Linked DNA regions of Homo sapiens. The protein of the gene in region 2 interacts with the protein of the main gene of each other region in a pairwise test. Each region holds a gene or a part of one and is shown on either strand. Other genes may lie near its edges. The genes, in order: PTCHD1 and METAP2.

Region 1 (7,299 bases), on a different chromosome or scaffold from region 2:
CAGGGCATTTTTTACCCATTTAGTTCTTGTGAAATCCTTGCCCAGAACAAATGTGGATAACATTGGAGCACAATTGTCAATTGTGTAATTAATTCCATAAATTAAGCATAGCACAGAAATGCAGTCCAGTTCTACTTTCCATAATGTCATGAAACCTATCACTCCAAACTCCACGGACACAACTGTGAGAGTGATCCAGACGTTAATCAGTGAATCTGCCACCAGGAATGCCGAGAAGAAGAGCAGGAACAAAGCACTGATGCAGGAGTTGTGCAGGGGGGCTCCCAGAGAGGAGGCATATCGATCCATGTATACAAAGGACGGATTGAAGACGATGAACTTCACCTTGGAGGTGACAGAAAGTCTCCTCAGGGTTTCCAAGAGATCATAGAGTTCTTCTCTGTTTGTTTCCATGGTCTTGGCCACCAAAAACATTCTGGAGGCCACTACATCGACCTCATCATTGTATTTTTTAGAGAAGATGATGTCCTCTTGAAAATGTGAAAATTGAGGGGCTTTCAGAAAGGAATTCCTCAACATGTCTGTGAAATTTTTCTTAGGCAAGCCAGTGGATACATTGAGTTTCCGAAGGTAATTTAAATAGCTCTCAAACCAGGATATCCGCACAAACCCCTTGGTGTATTCTAGAACATCTTCTTGGACACTAGTGTTCCAGTATTCTATAGACTCATATATGTAAAACCCAATCACAGGACTGTAGTTGCTGAAGTACTTTTGCTGGGCAGTAGTGTACTCAATGGTTTGTGTCGCGGTTGCTACAATGTTACTAAGGTCTGACCCTTCACTGACCTGCAGATAGCCCATTAAGGCAAAGGAAATATAAATAAGGTAAAAGAGAACTACAAAAGGCTTGACATAGGTGTTGGTTATCCAGTCACAGTAATAGCGTTTGAGGAAACATACCAATAGGTGACTCTCGTAAGTGTTCGCTTCCTCGCCTTCAGCTGTGTCCTCACTGAATCTGGCCGTCAGGAGAAACCTGTACCATGCCGGCTTCTCCTGCAATGCCTCAGGCTTTGGGACTTTTCTACAGAAGATACTATGCTGGTAATTGTTTTCTATGTAGCCAGTGAACACTAGGCTGGAACCATAAAACGAGAGTACATAGAGGTAGTTGAAGAAGATTGCAATACAGGAATTGCAGCAGAAAATCCTGGCTGCCTCAATGTTCGTGAAAGGGCTGGCCCCTATGCCAAAGGTGACCAGGTACATGGCAGTGGTGAGAGAAAAGGAGAGCATGGAGTCTGCATAGACTGCTGCAGTTCTCTCTTTAACATGTTGGTCTTCTCTAGTTTTCCTCCAGGAGGATAACATTTCAAAAGTCCCATATAATCCATGACCTAAGAGGGCAGAAAAAGACCAGAGCAGAAGTTTAAAGAACTAATCTCTTAAGAGGGAAATCAACTTGATTATGAGGGACTACTGGGTCAAAGGAAACGTAATCAACCCTAGTGGTGACGGGTATGTAAATGCCAATGATTTCTCCTATGCGGAGATAGACCCATGTTTTTATGAATCGTAAATGTTAATGGATAACGAAAGGGCAGCTAGAGAAGCAAAGATCTTCATATTCCCTCTGGCTTAAGAAAGTTCTCTTCTTTGGAGTGTTCCACCAAACAAACAGCACTTAGATGAACTTTTGCCTATAGAAAGCTGAGTAGAGCCAGTCATGGTGGCTCATGCCTGTAATCCTAGCAACTTGGGAGACTGAGGAAGGAAGATGACTTAAGACCAGGAGTTTGATACCAGCCTGGGCAATGTAGCGAGACCTCATCTCTCAAAAAAAAAAAAAAAAAGAAAGAAAGAAAGAAAAAAGAAAGAAAAAAAAAGAAAGAAAATGAAACAACTTAGCCAGGAATAGTGGCTCATATCTGTAGTCCCAGCTACTTGGGAGGCTAAGGCAGGTGGATCTCTTGAGCCTCGGAGTTGGAGGCTGCAGTGAGCCATGATTGTGCCACTGCACTCCAGCCTGGGCAACAGGGCAAGACCCTGACTCTAAAAAGAATAAAAGCTGATTAGACTTGTGCATATGTCTCTTGGGGATTTTTCCCATTAATAGCTTAGAGTTATTGGTGCAGTTTGGTTGGTGGAACGCTCCAGAGAAGAGAAGATGTCTGGACACTCATCATTTTGCTTTCCGTCCCCACAAGTCTGGCTAGGGGTCAGTGCAGAGGAAGATAGTGGGCAGAGGGTTCTGAGTTAATGTCCTGTCACCTCATTTAAAATTTGCCAACTAGAGGGTTTTAGTGATAAAGAGGCAGTGTATTTCATTTGAGTCTTGACAGGAAACTAAATCACAGCCCCCTCTGTTTTCCCTCCCCAAATATCAGGGCAGGAAGCAATAAATCTTAGAAAGAGGGAAGCAAAATAAGTAGGAGTGAAGAAGTTTCAGTGAAGAAAATACAGAAAAAATAAGATAAATATGAACTCTCCTGGTTATTGATAAAAATTAGGATTCAGGTTGAAGGTTTATGACTTGCAATTTGTCTTCAGGGATCTGTTTGACCAATTTGGTTATTCATACATGACTTATCAAGCAGTGATATAATACGTCAGCAGCGACTCTGCTAGCTTCTCCGCGCTATTTGATAGTGGCATCTGTGGGAAAGAGCCAGATCAGTAACCCCGCTGCGTAACTGCTTAGTGCCTTCGCCTCCTGGTTTAGTATTTCAGCAATACTGAAATAGCAGAGGTACAGTAAATGCTCATGTTCTAAACTCCATTCTGCTGCCTGGAACCTGATCTAGCATGACTTCTACCACCTCTCGTAGTTGGAGCCAGACATTTCCCTACTTCGAGTCCCTGTGTTTCCAGGCCACTGCAACATTGGAAGGCTCACCAAAGTGACCCGTTGTGGATTTCGATAACTCCTGTCTTGGCAATGGGGATCAGCAGATCTAATTTCCTGCTTCCATCGCCTTGGCATATTCAATCCCATTATTGAGGATAATAAAATCTTTACCCTGTGGTACAATAGTCTTGTATTTAAAAAGGAATTTAAAATCTCCAGCCAAGCATAATGCTGAATAAAGTGAGTCACTGTTATCTTGTGTGTACAATAGCTAGGTGTACATCTTCCCTCATGCCCAAGCTAGTATTTATATCCTTATTGTGAAGTCCTGGCCTCATACCTGAAATGCCCATTTCAAAGTAATGATTTAGGCCTGTTTCCTCAGAGGAATTTGGCATTTATCTTAATTGACTAGGCATCGTTTTACAGCCACTTTTAGAAGTCAGGTCAAGACTGTCAATTTGTTAACTAGCACCGAGGCCCCTATTAAATTGAAGGCACCTAAACTCCCCAGATATGAAGTAAAAAGTACACTCATTGACTGGCATCCTGTTGTTAATTATGCTTAGGTATTAACATCTAGTCTGGAGAGGGAACATGATTAAATCTGTTTCTAGTATATTTTCAAGATGGACCCACTGACCTTTAATTAAGTAACCATTCTCTTGACAATGAGGGTAAAAAGAGAATACTTCTGAGGCACTGTCCCTGAAGAAATAATATTGTTTTTTTTGTTTTTTTTTTTTTTTTCCTGGGGCCATGTAGAGCAAGTAAGCTTTGGTGGGCAAAGCACACTTCAGGGGATCACTATAAATGGCAAATAATTTTTTAATGATATTTACTTGCCAGAAACAAAAAATTTAAACAGGGTTTTAGTACTGAGTTATTAAATATGGCAAGAAAATAAAGCATATAGCGGAATTAGAATTAGTCATATAATAGAACTTAAATCTGTTTTGCAGTTCTTTTAAAAATCAGTGTGATGTTTTATAATGACATTATCTGACCCTGATTTTTGGAAAATACAATAAGAATCAATTTCATACCTTGCTGTTGAATAATCTTAGAAGCTAATTGAGAAAAGGAATTTGAATTAACAGAGATATTAGGTGACAAGACTGAGGCTCCAGGGTCAAGAATGAAAGTAATCAAAATCAAGGAAAGGTGGAAGTAGGCTGTTAGCTTCTCTCTTGAGTTCTGTTGCTGCATTTTAAATGCCTTGTCCTTCTATAGTTTGATCTTTTATTTTGAGTCCTGGCTCTTTTTGCATATGTTCTTGGTTTGGGGGCAGCTCCAAAGAGAATTCTAATTTTCTTCTGAGGGGCTTTTGGAAACGATGCCTTTCCTTAGTTCTTCCTTCTTGCTACAGGTGTGTACATGCAGCCACTCACAGAAATCAGAAGAGGCCCTGAGAAAGAATTTGTTCTAACCGATCACTCAGCATTTGTTGCTAGTTGTGCCTGACTTTGCCTCCAAAGGCCCCGACCACCATTCCTGATAGGTCAGATTCCTTTCTCAAGCCACACCTCTCGAGCAGATTGCTACACCCGAATCCCCAAACTGGAGTTCTACAGCATCTTACAAGAGCCCTTTGGATTTCTGGGACAATTGCTGATACCATAACTGGGCCTCCTTCCTGAAGGTTTGTCAGTCAAGGGAGGGACAAGTGCTAACATAGCTGTGGTCACCTCTTAAGGATTAACAGCCTGGAGTGCCTGGCTGGCAGCTGTCCTGGCTCATAGCTGGGTATTTTTGCTGAAGAGGTCGGCCTGTTATCCTATAGGAAAGGCCATCGGTGAGGACTCTTGTGTTCTGGCCTGGATTCAAGGGGAGACACATTCCAAAAGCCCTAGGACACGAGGACCATCCTGCCCTCCAGAATGCCGGAATTATATCCGAGTTCCCCTTGGAACTTTCAAGGGTATCCTTTTAAATGTAAACTCCTCTGGGACAGTGGTCTACTGAAGCAGCTTCCCTTAGGTCTGGGGAATGGGACAGAGAATGGACATGGGAATGGAATAAAGAGGAAATGGCAGGTAGGAGAATTTCACAGAGACGAATTTCTTCAGTTTTTCCTTCAGTCAGGTCTGACCTTATCTTTTACTAGCACTCCAGAAACTGGGCCACCTGGAGTCAAGGAGAGGCAGAGAAGATAGATTTTGGTAGGTTCTGTTCCTCTCCACTTTCCTCTTTCAGTGGATGGCTACCTCCTTTAGCATCATCATCATTCATTGCTTTTTTTTTTTTTCGAGACGGAGTCTCACTCTGTCTCCCAGGCTGGAGTGCAGTGGCACAATCTCTGCTCGCTGCAGCCTCGGCCTCCCGGGTTCCAGCGATTCCCCTGCCTCAGCCTCCTGGGTAGCTGGGATTACAGGCACATGCCACCACGCCCAGGTAATTTTTGTAGTTTTAGTAGAGATGGGGTTTCACCGTATTGGCCAGGCTGGTCTTGAACTCTTGACCTCAGGTGATCTGCCTGCCTCGGCCTCCCAAAGTGCTGGGATTCTATACAGGCATGAGCCACCACGCACAACCCACTCTCCTAATTTTGGGGCTGTAGTTCAGCAAGCGGAACTCTGACGCCAAATCTTACAGACGTAGGCAAACAGATATTGCATGTGGACTGAAGATACTTTTCAGAGGTCTGACTGTTGTTTCCTACTTTTTAAAAAGGTGTTTTAAAAGCAAAAGTACTGCTGTTTGCTTTGCACTCTAGTTTTAAAAACTTCTCTACAAAGTAGGAGTTCTATAAGCTTCTCTGTTAAATCTGACCAGTGGGCCTATGTCATTGGCACAAAGCATGACTTTGGCAAATAACAATTTCCCATCTCCAAAGTCCCAAGTCTGTTCACAAGGACTCCCTGGTGACAGAACTCATGGGGTGGGGCCAGGGCAGAGCTACCTAAATACAGATTTTGATTTTGGTCAGTAGGGACCCTGTGGTGTTATTGGGAGTCATGACTCATCATTTGAGGGCCAGGTCGCAGCCTGAGACCTTGGGGTAAAAAGACTATATATCACAGTGAGGATATCAGGAACCTCCACATCCTGACATCCTCACATTCCAAGGATTACCCTGGATGATACAACATCCCAGGGGATTCCTTCTTTTACAGTCACAGTGCAGGACTGAGGAGTTGCCAACGGGAACTGTTAAACACATACTGATTCTATCAGATTTTGAAGATAAAAATGCTTCTAAAGCATTCTCTTGTCCTTTAAAAGCATATTCAAGATGTTTGTTTCTATTTTTGTTACCCTGCATGTCTGTATTGTTACATGCATAAGAACAAATGCATATCAGTATGTAAAAACACATACACACACACATAAAGAGAAAGAGAGAGAGAGAGATTGAAGGGAGCGCCAAGTTCTAATTATTCGTGAGTGAATACTCTGAGGCAGCTCGAGGTTTTTGTCAGGCCAGCAGGGCTCTTCACTAATGTTGAGGCAAAATTTGGGCCGGGAGTGTGATTTTAAAAAGAAAACTGCTTTTATTAATTTTATTTGCAGTACACTTTGGGGTTGTCATCTAATAAAATAAAATACTAAAGAATTTAGGCTAATAATTTTTCTTATTCTCAAAAGAATTTTTATATCTGAATGTGTTGTTAACTCTCAGACTTTGGAGCAAATGAAGGGAAAAAGAAGCACACATGATAAATAACACTAATGGCGGAAAAAAAAATTCAACTGGCTAATCCTCCCATCACTGAGGGTGACTATCAAGCACCCTCAGAGATTAATTCTGTCACCCAGAACTTTCTGGGGCCTGACCAAAGCCTTCAGGGTTGTTTATAATCCGGTAAGACAGAATCTACTAACAAATAGTTGAGAGTTAACCTTTCTTTACCCAGTAGATATACTTCTGGAAAGTTGCTCATAAAGTGAATAATATTTTAAATGTATTTAGTGGTTTTGCTATTGGAGACAGTCTGGGTGATTTTTTTGTTGTTGTTTGGTTTTCAATGAATAATCGTAGGCAAATTGATCTACTTTGTATAATACTTCTGGATTTTGTAAGTCAGATTTTTCTTCAGTCCCAGATTTTCGCGCCTGTCCCAGTATACATAGCCACAACACAGCAGCTGAGAGATGCCGCTGGGTGCTACTCACATTTTAAACCTCTCCACACTAGCAGGATTTCCTCATCCTGAGTTCCTCAAAGTAAGGAATGGCTAAGAAGGAGGAAATGGGATGGCTTGCTGATTGATGGATGATCTTTCAGTTTCAGTGTGAAAACATTTAATATCATGAGTCAATGAAGCTGTTTATAGCATGCCTGGGCAGTGCCAAATTTCATATATGGAAATAAAATTACTACATTCGTCTCAAAAATTCAGAGACTATAATCCATAAGCAAAATCTGCTTAAAGCCTATTTTATTCTTAGAAAAGCTTCACTAAGTAGCTCATGTTTATAAGATGCCTGTTTTTCAATGTCATCCACATAAATTCATGATTTTTGTGTTTTTGAGAAGAAATTTA
Region 2 (4,487 bases):
TGAATGACTTTTATTTCCCTATTTTTTATAACAGTGAAACCAATCCGTAATCTAAATGGACATTCAATTGGGCAATATAGAATACATGCTGGAAAAACAGTGCCGATTGTGAAAGGAGGGGAGGCAACAAGAATGGAGGTATGTGTGTCACTAACATTTTACTTCCATGGAAGACATTTTTTTCTTCCAAGCAGAAGGTCATGGTAGTTAAATATATGGTTATACTGACCAGAATTAGCTGCTTATCATCCATATTCACCCTGCCAGGAATTGGGCCATTTGAATTTGCAAATTGTGTATAGTCAGCACTAAATCAGTTGTGGAAATTGGGGCTGTGAAAGGGTTGTTTATTCAACATTTAATGAATATTTATTGAGCATTCTCAGGTGCCAGTCTCTTTATAGTAGGCTCTAGGGGTAGAGCTGTGAACATAATTCATAGGGGGAAGCAGAAAGACCAAAAAGTGCTAAGGAGATAAAGCAGGGCAAGGCTAGATAAGGACCGCCAGGGGCTATTTCATGTTGCTGCTTAATCAGGTAGAGACTTCAAGAGATGGTAATTGTAGGCCAGGCTCGGTAGCTCAGGCCTGTTAATCCCAGCACTTTGAGACACCAAGGCAGGCAGATCACCTGAGTGAGGTCAGGAGTTTGAGACCATCCTGGCCAACATGGTGGAACCTTGTATCTACTAAAAATACAAAAATTAGCCAGGCATGGTGGCACGTGCCTGTAGTCCCACCTACTCGGGAGGCTGAGGCAGGAGAATCGCTTGAACCTGGAAAGTGGAGGTTGCAGTGAGCCAAGATCTCACCACTGCACTCCAGCCTGGCAGCAGAGAGAGACTCTGTCTCAAAAAGAGAGAGAGAGAAAGAGAGATGGTAATTGTGATTCGTTCTGAATTTTTCTTCTTTCTCTCCCCTTGACCCTTATTTATTTTTCAGGAAGGAGAAGTATATGCAATTGAAACCTTTGGTAGTACAGGAAAAGGTGTTGTTCATGATGATATGGAATGTTCACATTACATGAAAAATTTTGATGTTGGACATGTGCCAATAAGGTGAGAGACGAGACGATTGATTTTATGTGGCTAATTAGCATCTCTTCTGAGTTAACAGCATTTCTAAAAAATGTGGCATACATACAAAATAGTATATTCATGAATGTAGAGTTCTGTAGCCCAACAATAAGAAAAAAAAATAGCCTGTTAAACATTTTAACTGAGATAAAAATTACACACACACACACACACACACACACACACACACACACACACAAGTGCTCTCTTCAAGTCCGGTTTCTGATAATCATAAATGTCAGAGATTATTTTGCTAGCATTCCTAGGTTTTTGCTTTAATATTTTTCCATTGGTAAACTTCCATTTACAGCGTCTTTCAATTTACATTGAAATTTTTTAACATTTGAAGATGATTGAAATCTGCATTTACATCTTTTATATGCAGGTCTTTGAGCTTGCTGCACACAAAAGGAAATTCACATCATAATACCCTGTAGTAGGTCTCTAGTGGGGAATATAACACACACACACGCACACGCGCGCGCACGTAGACACGTAAACATGATAAGATGGCCTCCAGCTGGTGTCCTATTCAGCTGCCATCTATAATTAGGTATGGGCTATTATACATTCTGGCTTTTGATTGTTGAAAGAGCAACAATAAAAGTTTTTGGACTTCAACTACTAGGACACAGCTAAGGTCTGGGCTTTTCTTAATGAGGGAAATCAGTTCGTAACTCTTTTGCCAACAGTTAATTTTGGATTTTCTCCTCTTAGGCTTCCAAGAACAAAACACTTGTTAAATGTCATCAATGAAAACTTTGGAACCCTTGCCTTCTGCCGCAGATGGCTGGATCGCTTGGGAGAAAGTAAATACTTGATGGCTCTGAAGAATCTGTGTGACTTGGGCATTGTAGATCCATATCCACCATTATGTGACATTAAAGGATCATATACAGCGCAATTTGAACATACCATCCTGTTGCGTCCAACATGTAAAGAAGTTGTCAGCAGAGGAGATGACTATTAAACTTAGTCCAAAGCCACCTCAACACCTTTATTTTCTGAGCTTTGTTGGAAAACATGATACCAGAATTAATTTGCCACATGTTGTCTGTTTTAACAGTGGACCCATGTAATACTTTTATCCATGTTTAAAAAAGAAGGAATTTGGACAAAGGCAAACCGTCTAATGTAATTAACCAACGAAAAAGCTTTCCGGACTTTTAAATGCTAACTGTTTTTCCCCTTCCTGTCTAGGAAAATGCTATAAAGCTCAAATTAGTTAGGAATGACTTATACGTTTTGTTTTGAATACCTAAGAGATACTTTTTGGATATTTATATTGCCATATTCTTACTTGAATGCTTTGAATGACTACATCCAGTTCTGCACCTATACCCTCTGGTGTTGCTTTTTAACCTTCCTGGAATCCATTTTCTAAAAAATAAAGACATTTTCAGATCTGAGAGCTACATCTCAATGTCTGTGGTTATAATTCTGGACAGGATAAATAGCTAAACTTAATGTAGGCAAATGCAGAGACATTTATCTGAAATGTAGACCTCTACACTGAGACTTTTCTGGCATAGTGGCTAAAACAAGATCTACACATGCATAAAAAGGGACAATCACCTTTTCTTCATAAATATACAGCTTTAGGAATATTTCACCATTCTTTGTAGGACATAGTAGTCCTTGTCTTTTTTTCTCCTGACATTGGAAAGATGTGCTAATTGAAACTTGACTTAGTAGGAACATTGTGCCAACTCAAAACCTTGATTTAGTAAAAATCTCAATGTTTAGATCCTTTGTCCAGTGGTGGTGTTTATCAGGGAATGTATTCAGCTTGCTCAGAAAACCAAAAGGGTATTAAAGCCACAAAAGCAAAGAAGAAAAAAAAAAACTTCCCATGTTTGGATCTTGTTCTAGTTAGAAAAATTAAGTTGAAATTCTTGGACTTTTTCATTCATGAGGCAAATGCTGTAATACCTTCCCCTTTGACAGGTTTGGATTCTTAACATTACTAGTGGTATTTCAGGAAGTGACGTTACAGTTACTTTCCTTATAGCGGCTAAGTGTATTAAGTTGAATGTAACGATGGTAATATTAATTTGTTTGAACTGAGGCCCACTACTGATTCTTTGACAAATTGAATTCTTATATTTAAATAATTTTATGGGAATGTTCCATCATAATTTCTAAATCATTTATATATCAAGGTAGCCTTAATTTGTATATGTTTCAGTACAATGAGATTTTATTGCCTCTGGGATGCTGTTTAGTTTGTATTTTGTTGAACGTTTTTATCCTAGGAAGAGAAACCTATGACTTGTGTACCTAGATCATCTGTTACATTAAAAAGCTGCTCTTTCAGCATTAGAGCTATAAATGAATGTTACCTTGTCGGGAAACAATCTAGGTTTTAGCTGTATGAGCTATGTTTATTATGGTGCTAATGTTCAGTAGCCACATTTGACTAATGTCTCCATTCTCTGTGATGCTGTGGCTAGCAGCAGAGCTCGCCAGTTCATGCCTGGACATACTGTCAGGGCTGGGCCCTCCAGCTAGCTCCTTTGGGGTTGAGTCCGTATCTTTTTGATGTGGAAGTATAAAGCAAGTATCTTGATTTCTAAACCCAGCAATTTTAGAATTGACCTTTATGAGTGAAGACTTTTGGAGCTTTTAAAGACCTTGGCAGTCATGATCTCAAACCAATTAGGAGCTCCAAGCTCCCTTCCCAGGTAACTGTTGGGAGCAATGGCATCACTGTATGCCCTTGTAATGGCTGGAAGGGACATGATCTTGTAAGTAGGAAAGCTGTAACTAAAAATTGTATTGTTTGCTTATTAGCCATGTATCTCTTAAAATTTTGTTATGTTTACAACGATGTACCTTATTGGCAACAAGTTATTAGTTTGATGTTTAACAATAGTGCCTTTAGTAAATTATTTTACAACTAAAACATGTTGTTTTTTGTTAGATCAACTTAGCAGAATGTAGACGTCCATGTTGAGATTTAAGATAAATAGTAAGAAATCTAAGTTTCTGTTTATTGTTTAGGTTTTAATTTTATTGTTGGTATTTTGAGACATTTTTCACACTAAAATTTAGTGGAAAGTACTACAGATTTCCCAGACCCCCCCCCAATAATATCCCCCTTTTCCAAGCCTCCCCCCATAGGTGTTTGTTAGTTTTAAGGGATTAAAAAGTAAAGGGCTAAGTCACTTTGTTTTTTTTTTTTTTTTTTTTTTTTTTTTTTTTAGCGGGAGTCTCGCTCTGTCACCCAGGCTGGAGTGCAGTGGCGCGATCTCAGCTCACTGCAGCCGGGTTCAAGCTATTCTCCTGCCTCAGCCTCCTGAGTAGCTGGACTATAGATGCATGCTACCACGCCTGGCTAATTTTTTTTTTTTTTGTATTTTTAGTAGAGATGGGGTTTCACTGTGTTAGCCAGGATGGTCTTGATCTCCTGA

The links.
Region 1: the proteins of METAP2 (region 2) and PTCHD1 interact in a two-hybrid assay, tested with the Homo sapiens proteins (one study listed by BioGRID and IntAct).

The regions. Positions count from the first base shown.
Region 1 is NC_000023.11:23,386,593-23,393,891, reverse strand, and holds part of PTCHD1 (patched domain-containing protein 1), read right to left. Parts: intron 1,362-7,299; coding exon 1-1,361. UniProt on the Homo sapiens protein: Required for the development and function of the thalamic reticular nucleus (TRN), a part of the thalamus that is critical for thalamocortical transmission, generation of sleep rhythms, sensorimotor processing and attention. Can bind cholesterol in vitro.
Region 2 is NC_000012.12:95,511,861-95,516,347, forward strand, and holds the end of METAP2 (methionine aminopeptidase 2), read left to right. Parts: intron 1-34; coding exon 35-138; intron 139-940; coding exon 941-1,056; intron 1,057-1,791; coding exon 1,792-2,044; 3' UTR 2,045-3,979; downstream 3,980-4,487. UniProt on the Homo sapiens protein: Cotranslationally removes the N-terminal methionine from nascent proteins. The N-terminal methionine is often cleaved when the second residue in the primary sequence is small and uncharged (Met-Ala-, Cys, Gly, Pro, Ser, Thr, or Val).